Regions from separate parts of the Homo sapiens genome. Here region 1 is linked to region 2. Evidence: fine-mapped expression QTL. Tissue or cell type: whole blood. Region 2 holds a variant in brackets; the other region holds the start of a gene. All regions are shown on one strand. Distances are between the middles of the regions.

Region 1 (2,623 bases), 56 kb after region 2:
GAGACTAGCTCTCACCACGTTTCCCAGGCTGGTCTTGAACTCCTGGACTCAAGCAATCCTCCCACCTCGGCCTCCCAAAGTGCTGGGATTACAGGCATGAGCCACCCCCGCCGGCCTTGGCTTCTCACTTTGAACAAGGCTTATGCCTTCAGCCTCATCACTGATTTCACACAGACGATATTACTCCTTCCATTCACCTGCCTGACCCTTCTAGGCAACTAACTCTTTATGAGGAAGAAGATGGGAACCCAGAGATTCATAGCTCAAGTTTAATCATTCCCTCATCCCTCAAGCTACAGAACTAGCTGGCTGTAGCACCAAGAACCACTAAGAACTCAAACCCCTTAAAGGCTGGAAGACCAGACTACTCCTTCAACTGGAATCCAGAGATGGGAGAGGCCAATCTCTAATTGACCCAATTCTGCCACACCTTCAAACAAGTATAGGAAAGAAAAATGAGTGTCCTAAATCCAACAGAAAATTAAGCTTTCGGAATTTACCTCTCTTCCCCTCCTCGCTGCTGTATATCCTGCAGTTTCTCAACGAACTCATGAAATTTCATTTCTTCCCTGTTGGACCTCGGCTTAAAGTTCTGGAAATTGGCCATCTTCTTCTCATCATAGTACAAGAACTTGTGGGTGCTGGCACTGTACACAGAGAAGTCTCCATTGCCAATATTCTCTTGCAGGTATTCAAGGTCCCATTTCAGGGCAGGATACACAAGATTTGTGTCGGTCAGCACCACAGGCTCCTAAATGAAAACAACAGGTGAAAAACACCAAATGAAGTAATGCCAAGGAGCCGGTGGGTTGGCCTCCATGATCCCAACTACTTCTCAACTTCAGAATAATTTCTCCTGTTAATCAGCACGAACCCCTAAGTTCCGTATCTCCTCGCCTTTCTCTCCATCTTCCCATAGGCCCTAGTCTAGAGCCCTGCCAGTCTCCCATCTCTTTCACCATTCACCTCTGACCTCTCAACCGGGTACCTTCCTCCTCTCCCTTTAGACGCGGCCCCGCCCCCCACCTCATTCTCAATAAGCTCCTCTGCCCGGGGGTCGCTCTGACTCAGACGCGGAATGGGCCTAGTCGGGAAGCTATAACTGCGCAACTGGGATTCATCCCAGGCGGGGCCGAGGGCTCCAGCCTCCTCCCGGGGCTCTCCAGAGCCAGAGGCCACAGCCTCCGCCGCTGTCGCCGCCATCTCCGCCGCCAGGGACGGCCCCCACCGGAACCGGAAGCTCCGCCTATTCCGGACCCCAAAAAAAAAAAAACAAAAAAACCACACACCCAACGGAAACCATAGAGATGAGCTGCGAGAGAGAGCGGTCCAGAGACATAAAGAACGCGGAGCCGAGGCCTGAGGGTGCGCCTCCTAATGGTAGTATGCAGCTCTACATCCTAGGCTCCACTGCTGAAGAAATGGGGCTAGACACTAGTCCCACGGAATAGGGACGACCTGGTAGAGCAAAACACAAAAAAAGTTGCCCCATGTGCCCGAGTCTACACAAGAGTCAAAGAAGGAAGCAAGTTCAGTTAGGCATTAAACTTTACACTCATGAATGGGGAGAAAAGCAAACTCTTGACCCACCTAAAGAAGTCAGAAGGAAAAGCAGTGATCACATTGGTAGATGTAGAGCAAAGGCTGACTGAAGGCTTAGGCAAAAGATATACAGCAAGTTGAATTCTTTCAAAATCAAAGACAGTTTTCTTTTGTTTAGCATCATTTGATTTTTCTGCCTATATCACCATGTCTCCTACTTGAATATATGTTTGCCGTGAATCGAATGTTATTAGAGGCCAACCATGGACATCTCACATTTTCAAACAATCTATACTGATTATAAAAGGCCATATTAATACCTCTATTGCTTACTTGGACAGTTCTTATGGCTGGCTGTGAGAGGCCCAATTCTAAGATGTATCCCAAGATTTGTACCCTACGGTGTACACATCCTGTATACATTTCTCCCCTTAAAAGAAAACACGACTGTGAATATGATAGAGCATCACTCCTGTAATTAGGTTAGCTTATATGACAAGGATGTAATTAAAGTCCCTAATCAATTAACTTTAAGGCAGTCAAAAAGAGGTGATTTATCCTGGTGGGCTTCATCTTATCACTCTAGCCCTTTAAATCAGGGCTAGAGGTCAGAGACAGAATCTAAGAGATTTGAAGCCACAGCACAGCTGTCCTGTTCACCTTGAAGGAGCAAACTGCCATATGGCAGGAAATGGCAGGTGGACTCTAGGAGCTGAGAAAGGCTCCTGGGTGACAGCCAACAAGAAAGTGGGCACCTTAATCCTACAAATGCAAGTAACTGAATTCTGGCAACAACCACTGAACTTGGGAAAGGACACACACGGAGCCTCAGATGAGATCGCTAACCCAGCCAACACCTTGATTTCAGCCTGATAAGACCCTGAGCTGAGGACTCAGCCAACCAGTACCTGGACTCATGGAATATGTGAGAAAATAAATTGGTGTTTTGGGCTGCTAAATTTACAGTAATTTGTTATGCAGTAATAGAAATGAATGCACTGGCTTAACTATGTAATTATGCTACATAGTAACCATGCTACACCAAACCGATAATAGGGCTACCTCTGTGGAAGTGTTTGAG
Region 2 (2,764 bases):
GCCCACCTTGCCCTCACACAGTGTCGGGATTACAGGCGTGAGCCACCATGTCCAGCCTGTGATTCATTTCAAGTTAAACTGTGAATAAGGTGTGAGACCTTAGGTTGAGGTTTTTTTCCTTTTTTTGGTGGGGGTGGGGGCAGGGGGTAGCTACAGATATCCACTTGCTCCAGAGCCATTTGTTGAAAAGACCATCTTTCTTCCATTGAGTTATTTTTGTACTTTTGCCAAAAATCAGCTGGGCATATTTGTGTGGCTGTATTTCTGGATTCTCTATTCTGTTTCATTAATCTATGTGTATATACCTCTACCAATCTCTTGGTTACTATAGCTTTATCCTTCTTTTTCAAAATTGTTTTTAGCTATTTTAGCTCCTTTGCCTTTAACAGATAAATTTTAGGATAATCTTATCTATATTTGCAAAACATCTTGCTGTGATTTTCACAGGAATTTTGTTAGACCTGTATATCAACTTGGGAAGAATCAACATCTTTATTGTATTGAGTCTTCCAATTTTTTTTTTTTTTTTTTTTTTTTTTTTGAGACAGCGTCTCACTCTGTCACCCAGGCTGGAGTGCAGTGGCATGATCATGGCTCACTGCAGCCTGGAACTCTTGGGCTGTGGAGAGATGATCTTTCCACTTCAGCCTCCTGAGTAGCTATGACTGCAGGTGTGCATCACCATGCCTGACTAATTTTTTTGTATTTTTTGTAGAGATGGAGTTTCGCCATGTTGCCCAAGCTGGTCTCCAACTCCAGGACTAAAGCGATCTGCCTGCCTCAGATTCCCAAAGTGCTGAGATTACAGGGGTGAGCCACCACACTTGGCTAAGTCCTCCAATCTGTAAATATGGTATGTCTCTTCATTTATTTATTGGATCTTCTTTTATTTATTTCATCAGCATTTTGCAGTTTTCAGTACACAAGTTCTGCATGTTTTGTTGTATTTACATCTGAGTATTTTATTTTACTTTTGAGTGACTGTAAATAGTGTTTCATTTTTAATTTCAGTGTCCATCTGTTCATTGCTAGTATGTAGAAATACAATCGATGTTTTTGCATATTTATCTTGTATTCTTCAACCTTGCTGAACTCACTTTTTAGTTCTAGAACTTTTTTTGTAGATTCCTTTGGATTTTCTCAGCAGAAAAGAATGTCTTCTTTTCTGATCTGTATGCTTTTTTTTTTTTAACAGAATCTTGCCAGGCTGGAGTCCAGTGACATGTTCTCAGCCCACTGCAACATCCACCTCCCAAGTTCAAGCGATTCTCGTGCCTGTCTCCC[G/A]AGTAGCTAGGACTAGAGACATTTGCCATCACGCCTGGCTAATTTTTGTATTTTTGGTAGAGACAGTGTTTTGCCATGTTGGCCAGGTTGGTCTTGAATTCCTGGCCTCAAGTAATCTACTCGCCTCGGCCTCCCCAAGTACTGAAATTACAGGTGTGAGCCACTGTGCCTGGCCTGATCTGTATGCTTTTTATTTCCTTTTCTTGTATTATGGCACCGGTTTAGATATTCCAATTTGATTTTGTCAAATGCTTTTTCTGCATCAACTGATATGATTATGTGATTCTTCTTCTTTAGTCTGTTAATAGGGTAAAGTACATTAGTTGATTTTTGAATATTGGATCAGCCTTTCATCCTTGGAATAAACTCCAACTACTCATGGTATCTAATTTTTATTATATATTGCTGGGTTCTATTTGCTAGTATTTTCTTGAGTGTTTCTACATTTATTTTCATGAAGAATATTGGTCTGTAATTTTCTTTTTTTTCTTTTTTTCATACCATCTTTGATGATGGGTAATATTAGTTTCATAAAATTAATTGGAAAGTGTTCCCTCTTCTTCTATTTTCTGGAAGAGATTACATAATGTTGTTCCTTCTTCTTTAAACATTTGTTAGAACTCTCCAGTAAAACCATATAGGCCTGAAGATTTCCTTTTTGGGGAGTTTTTAAATTATGAATTCAATTTCCTTAATAGAGGGCTATTCAAATTATCTATTTCCTGTTGGGGGAGTTGGGGTAGTTTGTATTTTTAAAGAAATTTGTCCAGTTCATCTAAATTGTCAATATTTATATGTGTAGTTTTTCATAGTATTCCATTATCCATTTGATGTCTGCAGGGTCTGTAGTGATATCTCTTGTTTTATTCTCGATATGGGTAATTTGTGTCTTCATTCTTTATTTTTTGTCAGTCTTGCTAGAGGATTATTAGTTTTATTGATCTTCCAAAGAACTAGCTCTTTGTTTCACTGATTTTCTCTATCATTTTCACATTTCTAGTTTTGTTGGCTTTTGCTCTTTTCTTTATTGTTTCCTTCCTCCACTTGCTTTGGATTTCCTTTGCTCTTCTTTTTCTAGATTCATGAAGTAGAAGCTTAGATGGTTGATTTGAAATTTTCTTCTTTTCTAATGCATAAATTTGGTGCTATAAATTTTCCTGTCACCACTGCTTTAGCTATGACTCACAAATTTTAAGATGTTGTATTATCATTTTTGTTCAGTTTGGTGTATCTTTGTGACTACCTCTTTGACCCATGGATTATTTACAAGTGTGTTGTTTTGTTTCCAAGTGTTTGAAGATTTTCTTGCAATCTTTCTATTATCAATTCAATTTTTTAAAAATTCCATTTGTGGTCAAAGAACACACTCTATATGATTTCAATTCTTTTAAATTTGCTGAGTTTGTTTAATGGCTCAGCATATGCTCTATCTTGGCATATGTCCTATGGGCACTTGGAAAAAATGTGTATTTTGCTGTTG

What was found. PIP is the estimated chance that this variant, and not a neighbour inherited with it, causes the effect.
Region 1: HIF1AN starts here. The variant in region 2 is fine-mapped to the expression of HIF1AN in whole blood (TOPMed, PIP 0.95).

The regions. Positions count from the first base shown.
Region 1 is chr10:100,534,539-100,537,161 of GRCh38, reverse strand. HIF1AN (hypoxia inducible factor 1 subunit alpha inhibitor) reads right to left here and starts at 1,219. Exons shown (of 8, transcript NM_017902.3): 1 at 1,027-1,219; 2 at 501-751. The coding sequence starts at 1,203. RefSeq lists enhancers at 1,240-1,299, 1,370-1,459.
Region 2 is chr10:100,590,116-100,592,879 of GRCh38, reverse strand. No RefSeq gene overlaps it. Among named protein-coding and RNA genes, the nearest start is that of HIF1AN, 56 kb to the right of the region's middle. The variant G/A (reference allele first, on the strand shown) is at 1,285.